2 separate regions of the Homo sapiens genome follow, and region 2 is linked to region 1. The links come from fine-mapping of genetic effects on gene expression. Tissue or cell type: whole blood. Region 1 holds a variant in brackets; the other region holds the start of a gene. All regions are shown on one strand. Distances are between the middles of the regions.

The links. PIP is the estimated chance that this variant, and not a neighbour inherited with it, causes the effect.
Region 2: it holds the start of PFN2, and the variant in region 1 is fine-mapped to the expression of PFN2 in whole blood (INTERVAL, PIP 0.94).

The regions. Positions count from the first base shown.
Region 1 is chr3:150,018,484-150,026,949 of GRCh38, forward strand. All of the region lies in intron 1 of LOC124909445 (a long non-coding RNA gene), which reads right to left. Among named protein-coding and RNA genes, the nearest start is that of PFN2, 52 kb to the left of the region's middle. RefSeq lists an enhancer at 3,876-5,075. The variant AAC/A (reference allele first, on the strand shown) is at 5,141.
Region 2 is chr3:149,966,869-149,975,101 of GRCh38, forward strand. PFN2 (profilin 2) reads right to left here and starts at 4,027. Exons shown (of 3, transcript NM_053024.4): 1 at 3,857-4,027; 2 at 1,490-1,682. The coding sequence starts at 3,988. LOC646903 (a long non-coding RNA gene) reads left to right here and starts at 4,411. Exons shown (of 1, transcript NR_036538.1): 1 at 4,411-6,374. RefSeq lists silencers at 3,223-3,482, 3,503-3,552, 3,563-3,802, 4,013-4,092, 4,323-4,382 and enhancers at 4,228-4,759, 4,760-5,290.

The DNA of each region.
Region 1 (8,466 bases):
TTGATAAAATTAATTGCAGTTGCTACTTTAACCCTCAACGGAGCAGAAGCTTAAAATTTGCTGTTTAGATTTCAGTTTCTAGTTATACCTGAGGTTGTTCCAGCTTGGTTAGGTTCAAGCCGGTGAAAGGCAGGCTGGTACTAATGATTCTTGTAAAGATTGCCATTCACATACCCTGCTGTATGCTTGATTGAGTTTCATGAAGCCTTCAAAAAGTAGTGATTTGGTTATGCTCTGAGTTTGAAAAAGGACCATTATTATACCAGATTTAAAATTGGATTTGGGTTAGCTCAGTTATCTGACTCATCACTAATTTTCTTTGACAATTAAGTCAATTCTTGGGTATACCTTGTATCTGAGTCTCAGTTTTCATTGAGAAATAAGATTTTATCTTTGCAAAGTTAGAAAAGGGAAAAGATAAAGCAGCAGGTCCTGTCAAAAGGAAAGGTGAATTCAATGTCAAATGGTGGGACTGTGAAATTAGAGAGCCAGGGGCTCTAATGAGGAGGAGTTCAAAGGACAGAGAACAAAGGGGTGAAGAAAATGACGGAAGGAAGAGGAAGTCAAATTGGCCTAGCTGAGCTGATATGTTTTCTCGATTTCTTGACCTCGTGATCCGCCCGCCCTGGTCTCCCAAAGTGCTGGGATTACAGGCGTGAGCCACTGCGCCTTGATGTGTTTTCTCTTAGAAACCTTTCGAGGATCTAGCAGTACTCTACTTTGCACAAAAAAAGAAATACTTCAATTAATCATTTTATTTAAGGTAGAGTCATACAATGTATGTGATTTTTAAAAAAATGATAGCCTAGTTAAAATGTAGCTAGAATCCTTTATATCAGCTGGTGTCTGTAAATATGCTCACATTCTTACACAGACACTTCATGACTTCTGCTCCAAGCTCAGAGTTAAGACGAGCGAGAAGCTTCATTTGTCCCTAAGTCTTGAACTGTTTGTAATAAGCGATTACTCCTACTTTAAGTTAAATTTCCCATGTTGAGCCAGCCTAGAATGTTGATGCTGGAAGGTACTTCCCGGCTCATTCATCTCTACCCCTCATTTGGCAGATGAGAACACACCATTCAGCCGATGAGAACACAGGCATCAGAACCCAAATGATAAGCCTATTCATTTTATTTTAAAGACTGTGAATTTCACAAGAGATTTTTTAGATGAAATTGTATAGATGCCTTCAAAAAATCATTAATAGAATATTATTCCCTCTCATATCATCCGAATAAACTCATCATTGCCATAAATGTTTTGAATAAAGCCACAACAAAATATGAGCTGTCCTTTGAACCTCACTTTCAATGTCTTCAAAGCTACTCTTCTGGGCTTTGCAAACTCCTTGGCAAAATTAGTCTTTTAAGTCTGAATAGAAAATATCTTCACAGTGAAACTGTATTAGTTAGGGTAACCTCACTGCTGTTAATGAATAAAACTCTTAATCAATAGCCTTGTAAGATACTTGCAAGTAGCAGTGACATGGAAGAAAACCTCTCAGGAAGAATACTATGTCTTTCACACACGGGCCATTTTTCCTGTTACATAAACACTGTGGTCCTTGTTGCTGTTTACCTTTTTTGGGATTAGAAGGGCAAAAGTAAGATAGATGTCCTTCTGGGATGTGCACTGGCTCCCAAGCTAAGCCTTTCACTATGGTGCCATGAATTTATGTAATCTTGGGTCAAGGCCTGCTGTCAGGCAAAAATTAAGCTTTATCAGGTCACTCAAAGTTGATGGACAGCAAAGCACTGATTTGTTTCAACTGATTAATGAAGGACCAATTGTCTAAACCAGAATCCTAGACTCAGGATAGCTCAGGGATTATGACCACGGGCTTTGGACTCAGAACTATGTCCTTATCTTCACTCTGCCACTATGTGGAGCAATGTGATCTTGGACAACTGACCTAATCTTGCTAAGCCTCAGTTTCCTCATCTAGAAAACGGAGATACTACGTACCTCAGAGAATAACTGCAAAGACTAAATTAGATTGTAAAGTGTTTAGTGGCTGTCAGGTGCAAAGTAAACACTGATGTTGCTATTATGATTCTGAAAGTGGTTGTTTTATTGGGAGACATTCTTTGAAATGCCTGAAAGATTCATGTATAACATGCAGGATCAGGGCATAAACCTGAAGTTGCTCAGTGAAGATGAAATCTGATCAAGGCCACAGACAGGGGCAATAGATTAGCAGTACCTCCTCAGAGAGAGAATCTTTCTAGGGCTGAATTCCTGTTTGTCTGAGTCAGTGTCTCACTCCTTTGCATGTGCCTGCTCTATCATAGATATTCAATAAATATTTTCGCACTGACTGAGCATGCTGGACAACAATGTATACTTTTTGCTCACTGGGTTTTCTTTTTCTATGCTTCATTCTCACCATCTCATGATAAAATTGATTCAGTTTTTATTCACTAAATTCAATCAATTTCAAATCTGCTTCCCAGAAATTAAACTTAGGTGACCTTGATTGCAGTCCTGGGTATTCTAAAACATTCTCATTCTTTTTTTTATTTTTTAGATGGGGTCTCACTGTCATCCGGGCTGGAGTAGAATGGCGTGATCTCGGCTCACTGCAACGTCTGTCTCCCAGGTTCGAGCGATTCTTGTGCCTCAGCCTTCTGAGTAGCTGGAATTACAAACATGCACCACCATAACCGGCTAATTTTTGTATTTTTAGTAGAGATGAGGCTTCACCATGTTGACCAGGCTGGTCTCAAACCCCTGACCTCAAGTGATTCATCTGCTTTGGCCTCCCAAAGTGCTGGGATTACAGGCGTGAGCCACCATGCCTGGCCACGTTCTCATTCGTTAATTCCACTTAAAAAATTGCAACTCATAGGCTGGCGGTGGCTCACACCTGTAATCCCAGTACTTTGGGAGGCAAGGTGGGTGGATCACGAGGTCAGGAGATGGAGACCACCCTGGCTAATATGGTGAAACCCCATCTCCACTAAAAATACAAAAAATTAGCCAGGCATGGTGGCGGGCACCTGTAGTCCCAGCTACTCGGGAGGCTGAGGCAGGAGAAGGGCATGAACCTGGGAGATGGAGCTTGCAGTGAGCCGAGATCGTGCCACTGCACTCCAGCCTGGGCCACAGAGCGAGACTCTGTCTCAAAAAAAAAAAAAAAATTACAACTCATAAATACTTACACAAAGACATATGACTTAAATGTAAAACCTAAAACTACAAAAAACCTAGAAGAAAACCTAGGAAATACCATTCTGGACACAGGCCCTGGAAAGAGTTCATGATAAAGACTCCAGAAGCAATTGCAACCAACAAAAAAATTGATAAGTGGGACCTAATTAAACCAAGAGCATCTGCACAGCAAAAGAAACTATCAACAGAGTAAACAGACAACCTACAGAATGGGAGAAAATATTTGCAAACTATGCATCTGACAAAGGTCTAATATCCAGAATCTGTAAGGAACTTAAGCAAATCAATAAGCAAAAAATAAATAACCCCATTAAAAAATGGGCAAAGGACATGAACAGATACTCTCAAAAGAACACATACACATGGGCAAGCATGTGAAAAAATTCTCAACATCACTAATCATTAGAGAAATACAAATCAAAGCCACAATGAGACACCATCTCACACCAGTCATAATGGCAATTAATAAAAAGTCAAAAAATGACATGCTGGCAAAGTTGCAGAGAAAAGGGAACACTTAGACACTGCTGGTGGGAGTGTAAATTAGTTCAGCCACTGTGGAAAGCAATCTGGAGATTTCTCAAAGAACTTAAAACAGAACTACCACTTGACCCAGCAATCCCGTTATTGGGTATGTACCCAACGGAATATAAATTGTTCTACCATAAAGACACATGCACATGTATGTTCATCACAGCACTATTCACAATAGCAAAGACATGGAATCAGCCCAAACCAGGATTAAGATGGCGAATAGGAGGCAGGACTAGCTTGCAGCTCCTGCTCATATGGAGAGAGCAGCATGTGGAGACTCACATCATGAGCTTTTTTGCTACAATTCTTGTAGCACAGGAACATACCAGGAAAGCCGAGGGAATCCACAGACGTTTGAAGCAACTGGATCACTGCTTCAGGCTCCCTGAGATGCTGAAAAACTGAGTCAACTTGCTTTCTCAGGCACATACCAGGAAAGCCGAGAGAATCCACAGACAGTTTGAAGGAACTGGATCACTGCTGCAGGCTCCCTGAGATGCTGAAAAACTGTGAGTTAACTTGTTTTCTCAGCCGGGAGGCTCATGGTCTGGGGCAAGTTCTCAGCCCTGGTCATGGGCTGCCTAGAAATAGACTTGGTGCTGTTGCAGGGCCTCGGTGGGAGTGAGACCAGCCTTTAGGACTGTGGGCTGAGTGGGAGTGAAGTGAGGCCTGTGACTGCCAGCTTTCCCCCACTTCCCTGGCAACCTGTATGACTCAGCAGAAGCAGCCATAATCCTCCAGGGAATATAGCTCCCTTGGACTGGGAGCCACACACCCATTCCCCACAGCAGCTGCAGCAAACTCCGCCCAAGGAGAGGCTCAGCTCAGACACACTATCCCTGTCCCCACTAGATGGTCTTTCTCTACCTGCCCTGGTAGCGGAAGATAAAGGTCATAATCTCTTGGGAGCTCTATGGCCCTGCCCACTGCCTGAGAAACCTGAATACTTAACCAGGTCTCCCTAGGGTAAATTTGCATCCTCCTTACAGGGCCGCAGCTGATAAACTCTTGAAAGTGGCACTTCCTGCCTGGAGCTTAACCAACACAAAACCAGTGCACTAAACAAAAACACAACCAAAGATCCTCACAGAGTCCACTTCAGTCTCCTGCTACCTCCACTGGAGCAGGTGCTGGTATCCATGCCTGCAAGGCCTGAAAACGGATCACATCACAGGACTCTTTGCAGACACTCCTCAGTACCAGCCCAGAGCCTGGTAGCTCTGCTGGGTGGTAAGACCCAGAAAAGCAAAAACAACCATTACAGTTCAGCTCTCAGGAAGCCACATTCCTAGGGGAAGGGGGAGAACACCACATCAAGGGAGCACCCCATGGGACAAAAGAATCTGAAGAGCAGCCCTTGAATCCCAGGTCTTCCCTCTGACATAGTCTACCCAAATGAGAAGGAACCAGAAACACACTTCTGGTAGTATGACAA[AAC/A]ACAGTTCTTTAACACGCCCAAAAGATCATACCAGCTCACCAGCAATGGATCCAAACCAAGACAGAATCTCTGAACTGCCAAAAAAAGAATTCAGAATTAAGCTAATACAGGAGGCACCAGAGAAAGATAAAATCCAACTTAAAGAAATGAAAAACATGATACAGGATATGAAAGGAAAATTCTTCAGTGAAACAGATAGCATAAATAAAAAACAATCGCAACTTATGCAAATCAAGGACACATTTAGAGAAATGCAAAGTGCACTGGAAAGTCTCCGCAATACAATCGAACAAGCAGAAGAAACAACTCCAGAGCTTGGAGACAAGGCTTTTGAATTAACACAATCCATCAAAGACAAAGAGAAAGGAATTTTTTAAAATAAACAAAGCCTCCAAGAAGTTTGGGACTATGTTAAACCTTCCAAATAATTGGTGAGTAATTGGTGTTCCAGAGGAAGAAGAGAAATCTAAAAGTCTGGAAAACATATTTGCGCTAATAATCGATGAAAATTTCCCTGGCTTTGCTAGAGATCTAGACATCCAAATACAAGAAGCTCAAAGAACACCTGGGAAATTCATCACAAAAAGAACACCCTCTAGGCACATAATCATCAGGTTACCTAAAGTCAAGACAAAGGAAAGAATCTTAAGAGTTGTGAGGCAAAAGCATCAGGTAACCTGCAAAGGAAAACTTAACAGATTAGCAGCAGATTTCTCAGCAGAAACCCTATGAGCTAGAAGGGATTGGGGACCTATTTTTTAGCCTCCTTAAACAAAACAATTATCAGCCAAGAATTTTGTATCCAGCAAAACTGAGCTTCATAAATGAAGGAAAGATACAGTCTTTTCCAAACAAACAAATGCCGAGAGAATCTGCCACTACCAAGACAGCACTACAAGAACTGCTAAAAGGAGCTCTAAATCTTGAAGCAAATCCTTGAAATACACCAAAACAGAACCTCCTTGGAGCATAAATCTCACAGGACCTATATAACAATAACACAATGAAAAAAGCCAAGGTATTCAGGCAACAAATGCACAATGAATAGAATAGTAACTCACATCTCAGCACTAACATTCAATGTAAATGTCCTAAATGCTCCACTTAAAAGATACAGAACAGTAGAATGAATAAGAATTCACCAGCCAAGTTTCTGTGTCTTCAGGAGACTCACCTAACCCTTAAGGACTCATATAAACACACGTAAGGACTCATATAAACTTAAGGTAAAGGGGTGGAAAAAGATATTCCATGCAAATGGACACCAAAAGCAAGCAGGAATAGCTATTCTTATATCAGACAAAACAAACTTTAAAGCAACAACAGTTTAAAAAGACAAAGTGGGACATTATATAATGATAAAAGGACTAGCCCAACAGGAGAATATCACAATTCTAAATATATATGCACTTAACACTGGAGCTCCCAAATTTATAAAGCAATTACTATGACCTAATAAATGAGATAGATGGTAACACAATAATAATGGGGGACTATACTCCACTGACAGCACTAGACAGGTCATCAAGACAGAAAGTCAACAAAGAAACAGTGAACCTAAATCTAAATGTACCCTACGACAAATGGACTTAACAGATATTTACAGAACAGTCTACCAAGCAACTGAAGAATATGCTTTTTTTTTTTTTTTTGAGACAGAGTCTCCTTCTGTCACCAGGTTGGAGTGCAATGGCATGATCTTGGCTCCGGCTCACTGCTGCAACCTCCACCTCTTGGGTTCAAGCAATTCTCCTGCCTCAGCCTCCCAAGTAGCTGGGATTACAGGTGCCTGCCACCACACCCGGCTAATTTTTATCTTTTATTTTTTTGTATTTTTAGTAGAGATGGGGTTCCAATCGCTTCTTGGCCTTTTGGCTAAGATCAAGTGGAGATGGGTTTTCGACATGTTGGCCAGGCTGGTCTTGAACTCCTGAACTCAGGTGATCCACCTGCCTTGGCCTTCCAAAGTGCTGGGATTATAGGTGTGAGCCACTGTGCCTGGCCCTAGAATATACATTCTATTCATCAGCACATGGATCATTCTCCAAGAGAGATCATATGATAGGCCAACACACAAGTCTCAGTAAATTTAAGAAAACTGAAATTATATCAAGTACTCTCTCAGACCACAGTGGAATAAAATTGGAAAACAACTTCAAAAGGAACTCTCAAAACCATGCAAATATGTGGAAATTAAATAACTTGCTCCTGAACGTTGGGTCAACAATGAAATCAGGATGGAAATTAAAAAATTCTTTGAACTGAATGATAATAGTGACATAACCTATCAAAACCTCTGGGATACAGCAAAAGCATTGCTAAGAGGAAAGTTCATTAAATGCCCACACCAAAAAGACTGAAAGAGCACAAATAAATAATCTAAGGTCAGACCTCATGGAACTGGAGAAACAAGAATAATTCAAACCCAAATCCAGCAGAAGGAAAGAAAGAACTAAGATCAGAGGAGAACTAAATAAAATTGGGAAAAAATACAAAAGATAAATGAAACAAAAAGCTGGTTCTTTGAAAAGATAAATAAAATTGATAGACCATTAGTGAGATTAACCAAGAAAAGAAGAGAGACAATCCAAATAAGCTCAATTAGAAACGAAATGGGAGATATTAGTACTGACAGCACAGAAATACAAAAGATTATTCAAGGCTATCATGAACACCTTTATGCCCATAAACTAGAAAACCTAGAGGGGATAGATAAATTCCTGGAAATATACAATCCCCTTGATTAAACCAGGAAAATATAGAATGTCTGAACAGACCAATAACAAGCAGCAAGATTGAAAGGGTAATAAAAAACTGCCAACAAAAAATGTCCAGGACCAGAGAGATTCAAAGCTGAATTCTATCAGATATTCAAAGAATTGGTACCAAACCTATTGACACTATTACAAAAGACGGAGAAAAGAGACTCCTCCCTAAATCATTCTATGAAGCCAGTATCACCCTAATATTAAAATGAAGGAAGGACGTAACAAAAAAGAAAACTACAGACCAATATCCCAGATGAACATAGATGCAAAAATCCTCAACAAAATGCTAGTGAACCAAATCCAACAGCATATCAAAAAGATAATCCACCATGATCAAAAGGGTTTTATACTAGGGATGCAGGGATGGTTTAACATGTGTAAGTCAATAAATGTGATACACCACTTAAACAGAATTAAAAACAAAAATCACTTGATCATCTCAATATATGCAGAAAAAACATTTGACAAAATCCAGTACCCATTATGATTAAAAACCTCAGCAAAATTGACATCAAGGGACATACCTTAACATAGTAAAATCCATCTATCACAAAC
Region 2 (8,233 bases), 52 kb before region 1:
GTCTTCTATTTTAGGGCAAAAAAATTCTGGCTGATGTCAAGTACATGTTATTACTTGCCCCCAAAATATAAACTTAATAAACCTGGGGAGTTACTTACTTACAAACTCTCCCCAAATTTTAACATGCTTGATAAGTTTAAACTATTAAGTTTTACCAGTGAGGCTAAATGTATCTATTATTTCCAGAGGAAAATGAAGATCAAATTTTAAGTAGCATACTCAGTATCATTCAGAAAAGGCCAAATTAAATTATTTAAGGTGTTTGCTTACTGATAACTTCACCGTAGTAGCCTTGTTTTTAATTGCGTCTAAAAAAATAGGTTTACGATTTCTAATTGCTCTTCTATGATGCAATTCAAAGGTGTATAACCCAAAATATATGTATATGTCAAATTTTATATTCACTACCACTAGATGTCAGTAGTGCTGTATCGTATAAAATATTCTGGTTTTTTGTCTTGTGTTTGACGCTTCTTTTCAGCGTATAGTGCAGCTAAGGTTTAAAGAGATTTGTCACTATTTCAAAGTCATCTAATTTTCTTATAAATCCTTATAAACATCAACTCACACCAGAATACGAGTAACTTTTAGGATAATCACAGGGAGCTGGTAGAGCCATAGCATTAATTATAACTCACAGCAGCTTCAACTCCCCTCACATGGTAGAGCTGTTATTAAAATTAGATGTGCCAAGTCAGCTATGTGAGGCTACAGAAGCACTCTCTATTTACAAAATATTCGTATGCGTTAACACATTAAAATGTATTTGTAAATCAATTAGATGTCATAATAAAACTCAATTTCAAAAGTTTATTTTGAAAAAGTAGGGAGACTTCTTTAGTGCAATTAAGAGTTTCTATAATGCTGACAACAGTCTGGAGACACCTGAATTTCTGGACCAAGTATACAAACTAAATGTAATTTCCTACTTTTCAAATCTAAGTCTCAGACACAATCTTTGAAAATATTTCAGTGAATGGACAACTTACTCCAAAATCCTCATCTAATTATCTTTTCCCCAGCAAAGTTCCTAACTGAAAAATGAACGGATGTTAATTTTTCCTTCTTTATGCTGAGTAGTGAAATGGTTAGAATACAAGCAAGAAAAAAAAGAAAAGAGATCCAAAGGTCAAACACACACCAAAAGGGACTAAAATAACCAAGTGATTCGAACAATTTAACAATCTGAAACACCACAGGATTATGATTTGACATGTCAAGCAGTTTAAGAGACTTTTAAGTTTAATAAAGCTGAAAGTGAGTTCATACGAATATTCTATCGTAGAAACAAAATCAGGATCTAAGAGGCCAGGTCATAGATGCTGTAGAGTAGGTAAAACTAAAGCAGTGCTTCTCCATAGTGCTGGGCAGTTCACAAAAACCACCTTAATAGCCATTATGGACTAACTTTTATTCAAAATGTTAAAAGAAACTGCTTAATAAGTTGTAATGTGGCATGCAACTTTAACCAAAAGAATGCCTTACTCACCTCTACCAGCTCTGCCGACAGCCACATTGTATGTTGGCTCCCCACCTTGACTCTTTGTCCGGATGTCCATTGTGCAGTCACCATCGACGTATAGACTATCTCTGATCACTGAGCATTTCTTCGCGCCAAGAGTCAAACCGTTGGTAAAGAAACCTTCCCGGTCTTTTCCTACAATCATATCTATTTCTATTGGCTGCCCCCCACCAAAAAGAAAAAAAAAAAACACACACACATTAAGTTGTAGTTAACTCCTTTTAGGGCTTGATGTAACAGGAAGGGCTGTAGCTAGGCTTATGCTACCACTGCCAGATAGCCACATTTCACTAATGTAAAACCAAGATTCAGTCTTTTCTAAATAATTATTTAATCCTATATAATCACATATTTTACATGAGTTGATTTGACTTCAGTTAATGATGTCGTCTCTTAACCAAGACCAGTCTATACAAAGAAACTGTAAAGAGTTGACAGTTGACACTAGACAAAGTGCAAACTTAAAGAGTTATTTATAAACTGTATTAAGTCAGCTGGTGCCTGAAAGTGTTCACGTAATGGTAAAAATTCAGCTATCAACTCTGAACAAAGCTGGTCTATCATATTCAGTCCCATTACAGTAAATCATGTTTCATCAAATTTAAAGTTGCTTCAAAGTCTCCCAAAATAAAGCCTGTTCTTTGATGTGTTCACTTCTCTGCTTAGAGTAACTAGAAATATACGTGATGAGATGGACTTCAACCCCTGGACATCAGTGCTTTTCCAAATTCATATTTCCCTCCTATTTTTCTAGCCACGACTCCCGTTTCTTTCCAACTTCCCTTCCCCTCCCATCTCAGTAATCAGTTTTCTTTCTGGGCAAACGCAAAGTGGATTCTGTCTACAGCACTGCGGTAGGCAATAGTAAAACAGAAAAAATGGAGGGAGATTGGGAAAGAAACTGAGGTAGCCACCAGAACCGGAAAGGAGAAAACGTGCATTCTAACATTCCATGAATAAGAAGGAAGGCGTCGCCCCCATCAGAACTGCAGAGTCATAGCAGGCCCCAGCCATTTCCAAGCACACTCCCGCAATCTTCCTAGTCAGACAGCGGGAACTCACACACAAAGACAAGAGGACTGCAGGAAAAAAGTTGATGACCAGATGCCAATTCCCTACAAGAATTGTAGTCCACTGCGGGTATACGAGACCTTAAAGTACTACTATCAAGGACTGAGTTCTAAAGTTAGACTTTAAACCATGTTAAGTGGTAAAAGAATAATTAGCACCCTTAATAGGGGACCTGAATTTTGGTGCTTAATGGAAAGGGAGCGTGGTGCTAAGAAATAAAGAGAATGGTCTCGTATTTAGTACAATTATCATAATTTTAGAAACAGCCTTGGGCAGAAACAGGCAAAACAATAAGCTGGAGGTTTTGTGGCAAATATTCTCCAAACATATTGCAACCAACTCAAAACCATCAAGTCTCAAGAAAATCAGGCAATGTGAAGCATAAAACTGCATTAGTTCCTTTACTGCCACCACTAAAGAGGGAGGGACTTAGAGAAGTGAAGTGTGCTCCTGGTCTTCGCAGATAATTGAAAGCCCCCGAAAAGCACCCCTTTTTTGAGCTATGTTGCATAACTGGGGATAACCGTATATCGATGAATCTCCATATGAGAAGAGAAATCAATGGCAGTTCGCCATCTTGGAGAATTTAAAAAAAAAAAAAAAACAACCTATAGAGCTAGAGCTGAAGTCGAGATTCACGAATCCACCTACGCGGTCGGCGTACATCTCTCGCAAGCCCCAGAGGCCTGGACATCGGTAAACCTACGCAAAGTCGCTTCGAGAATCCCGGGGGCCGGGCCGGGGCCGCCGCCTCCCACAGCCGGAGGCGCGGGAGGCGCGCTGTCCGCGGAGCAAGAGCCGGCCAGAGAGCCTAGGGACCTCCACCCGGGGCCCGCGCGCCCCAGCCCGGATCCCCGACCCCCGCTTCCACCCCAGAACGTGCATAGCAAACCTCAGGGCTTCAAGAGAACCTAGGGGAACCGCACTAGGAGGAAAAAAGGAACCCCTCCCCTTGCCCTGGCCGGTGCGTGCCCCCTCCCCCAACCCGGGCACCTGGACCGACGCTGGGAACGCCGGGGGCGCCCGGCCAGGGCCAGCAAGGAGTCCGGCCGCCGCCCCCAGCCTGTCAGCGCAGCCCCGGGTGAGGGGGCGTCCCCGGGCCTCGGCCTCCCCGCCCGCCCGGCAGCCGCATCCTCGGCGCCCGCTGCCTAGCACACCTGCGGGCTCGGCCCTCAGTGTTCCAGCCCCGCGCTGCGGTGCCCCCGCGGCCGGCCACCCCGCTCCGGTGCAGGGACCAGGGTACCGGCCGCCACTGGTCCTCACCGTAATGCTCTGAAAGACGCCCCCGGCCGTGGCTGCCCAGACGTATTTGGCGTCGCAGTAGCCGACAATGGCGGCCTCCTGGCAGCAGCCATCGCACATCAGGTTATCCACGTAGCTCTGCCAACCGGCCATCTTCGAGCCCTTCGCACTGCAGCGCGGACGGCGAGGAGCAGCAGGCGCAGCGGCGGCGGCGGCGGTAGCGGGCGGCGGCGGCGCGGGGGGAGGCGGGGCGGGGGCGGGGAGGAGGCGGCTCTGCGCAGGCACCGACCGCCCCCCTCCCCGAGGAGCTGCGGCGGGAGGACGCGGGTTCAGCGATGAGGGACGAACCTCAGAGCGCGCTCGGCCGCCCGGCCGCCCGCAGCCGCGGGGCTGACAAACCAGCGGCGGGAGGCTGCGAAGCGGCTGTGCCTGTGGCGGCTGCTCCTTACCGCAGCGCCCTCCGTTTTCCGCGGACACGGCTGGGCGTGCGCGCGCGCGTGCGTGCGATCCTTCCGCGGCGCCCGGGCACGGAGGGTCCCGGGAAGGGCGGGGGGAGACTGAGGCGGGGGCGCGGAGGGATACCGCCCCGGGACAATCACGGCCGCCACGTGCGGGAGGCGCCGGCCGGGAGCGGTGGCGGGCCGAGCTTCGGACCTCGGGCCGGCGGAGAGGGTGGACCCCGCGTCGCTCTCGGCACCCCAGGAACAGCGGCGGCACGGACGCCTTGGAGCCCCGCGGCCGGGCCGCGATGTGCTTTTCTCCTGTGTTCGCTGCCCGGGATGCGGAATCTTGAGCCTCGGTGTCGGGTTACAGAGTTGTCCTGGTGACGGGATGCGGAGCGTTTCCTCCTTTTTGTTGTGGGGGCGGCTGGTGGCAGGGGCAGCTGGTGGCAGGGTTGCCCACGCTAATCTCCGAGTCTCTAAGGGCACCGTCTTTCCTGGATCCCTCTTGCGCCTCGTCCATAAAGGCAGACCCGCGGGCGCGCGCCGGCAACCTGAAATCAGAGCAGGCGTCCGTGGCGCTCAGGAACCTTGCTGAGCTTCGCCGATCTTTCATTGTTGCTTCATTTGGGTACCAAGGGCCTCTCATTCTGTGGATTCTTTGCCTGGAGGAGCCCCCTTAATGTTGCTAATCACGTGTGGTTAAATTGCTCGTAAATTCCGAACAAAACAAATAGCGACCTGTGTTACACTGTTTCTTGGTAACTGGGAAAGTTACTGGTGGCTTGAAGTATACGCAGAAAATACAAAGATTAAAAACTAGGGAAGAGTTCACTGAATGAACACCGTAACATTTCTGCTCTGCAGGGTAAAATAATTTCGGGACCCAGGTCTGGGAAAGATTTGTATTAACAAGGTAAACGGTGGGTAGAGTGCCTGAGAAGCTATTCGTATCGTCTTTGGTAGCCTCTGGGCACTAGGACTAGACATGGAATTAGGGGTCCCCCAACAATGACTTCAATTTTAGGTTAATAGAAACCATCTGCCACTTAAGGGAAAGAAAGCACCAAAATGTAGATAAGTTGATGTTCACCCTTAAAGTTATCGTGTGAGGTCATGATTTGTAGGAGGATTAAGGAATGTATCTCTGGAAAGGGCAAGAACGTTGCTTTTAAAAGTCTAATTGGTTCTGAAGTTTTATATTTTTTCTGCTGATTGCTTTAAAATGTTCAGCTACTAGAGAGAAAAAAAGTACAGTAAAAGAAACCCCCAAGTCAGAGACCTATCAGACTGAGAATATGTATTTTCTCATGTTCTAAAGATACAGAATACCTGTGTGGTGTAAAATGTGAACCAAAAATTGTTTCATTTTTGTAAGTGTGCCTCCCACCTGATTTAATTACACTTAATTGTTCTTGTTTATGACTCTGCCTTTTATGGTGATGTTGATCATTTTAGTCCTTCGATCATAGCACTGTATCATCTTAAAAGTTAATAATAGATTACTTGTAACACAGGCTCACTATGTGAGAATTCATCAAGCTGTATGTACATTTATTGTGCTCTTCATTGTATGTATAATTCAATAAATTGAAACAGTAAACGAAAAGGTAATTATAGAAAAAATACAGTGATAACTTGAAGTATGTTGAATTTTTATTAATTTACTCTGAAGGTTTTAAGATATAATTTCTAGACGTTACTATCTTATTGTTATAGCACAGAGTTGGAAATAACTACATTCTTTTCCTATTCTTTTATTGTTGGCTTTAAACAGTGAAAGAATTTGACCAACAATATTTTCTAATTCAAATCTCAAAAGATTCTAAAACACATTTCTTGGGTAAAATATTCACAAAAATTTAGAATTCTTGTCATTCTTCTATATTTTTCAAAATATAATTCATTTTAAATTACTGCTTACTTTTCCAACATGATGTTATTTTTCTAGAATTGCAAACAGTAAAATTTAAACAACTATGAAAAAAATTCTGTATAATAGATTAAATTTTACAGTTTCAATTTTTAGGTTATATATTCAAAGAGAGTCCATGTGCTGTCTTGGTTTTCAGTACTGTAATAAAGTAACCTGTGCTTTTTTGTTTGTTTGTTTATTGAGATGAGACTCCGTCACCAGGGCTGGAGTGCAGTGGCATGATCTCGGCTCACTGCAACCTCCGCTTCCTGGGTTCAAGCGATTCTCCTGCCTCAGCCTCCCAAAAGTAGCTGGGATTACAGACACCCGCCACTACGCCCAGCTAATTTTTTGTATTTTTTGTAGAGACGGGGTTTCACCATGTTGGCCAGGCTGGTCTCAAACTCCTGACCTCGTTATTCGCCTGCCTCGGCCTCCCAAAGTGCTGGGATTACAGGCATGAGCCACCATGCCCGGCCACCTGTGCTTGTTTTCTTTAGAACCAGCTTCCTTGCATGCTGCTTTATTTTCCATTTGTGTACAGTGATCCCTTCCTATTTCATCTAAGTGTTGCTTATACGTTTCAGAAAGTATAAATAGAGGTGGAATACTGAGCTTTAGTAATAACAATATTGGTTCACTTAAGTCCAAAGGAGTATCAGTGTGAGAAAAAGAATTGCCAATTTGTATCTTCCTCTACTTTTCTGAGAGTAAGTAATCCCTAGGATAATTGTAATATCTGGGCAGAAGTTTAGAAAAGTTGTGGCTGTGTTGTTGATACAAATAGCCAGAATAATGTAGCCATTAACAATCAGTAGCATATTTAAGTTTGGAGTGCATTATTATGCATTCTTTCCAGAATTATTTTATTCTTATTGAGTAAAGCAGAAACTGTGTAGTAAGCCACGTTCTTTAATGTGTAAGTCAAGTGGTGTCTGAACCACTTGAGTCCATGTAAAAATCATTTGAAATTTTAGCAAAACACAAACAAGAAATTATCTTTAAAATGTACACAACCTGATAATCATTGGGAGCAGGATCTAAAACTATACACAGTAATTACCCCCAAATTTAGTAAAACCATAATTAACCATCAGTTATTTAAAAATTTCACCGCATAGTTCATTTCTGAAAAAAGTATATGAATTATAAAATCAATATCACAGCAATAAAGTTTAGAAAATGGAGAAAAATCCTTAATCCCACAAGCTAATACAAATATCTTTTGAATGTATTCACTATGTATGATTTTTACAGTAAAGAACAAGGAGAACTTATAATTCTGCATTTGGCCATTTTACCCTGAAATTCTATGAATTTTTGCTTTTTATATTTTGAGGCTATTAGGAAAATGGAAATTTAAATTGTTATATTTTTCCTTTCTGATGAATTTATTCTTTATTATTTAGTAGTTGCCCTCTTGATCACCAATACTGCTTTTTGTCTTAAAATTTTTGTCAAATATTAAGGTAACATCCCAGCTCTCTTTTTATTGGTGTTTACCTTATATATCTTTTCGCTCCCCACCTCTCTTTCAACCTTTCTCTGTCCTTTTTATTTTGTGTCTCATAAACTTCACGCAGCTGGATTTTGTTTTTTTATCCAATATGGCAGTATAACCTTTAATTGGCAAGTTTATTCCATTTACATTCATTGTAATTATTGACATACATTTGGACTTGTTTGAACTAATTTTATTAGTCTCTTTTTTTTTCTATGCTTTTTTCTTCCTTGCCTTTAAAAAAAATGTCGGGCATGTGTGTTTTATTCTTTTTTTTTTTTCAAATTTATGCTACCAATTTTTCTTAGTGTTACCCTTAAATTTTTGCCTTGCATATTTAATACAATAAAGTTTTAAGTTAAATATCTTAAACACTACCCCTAGACAATCCAAAAACCTTAGAATGTTTTAAGTCTGGACACCTCTCTCCAGACTCTTACACAGATGTTTATGTATGTGTGTATATATATGTACTTACATGTTTGTATTTTATTTACTTACTATTCCTTTTCATATCTCAGATCATTCTATGATCATTTTTC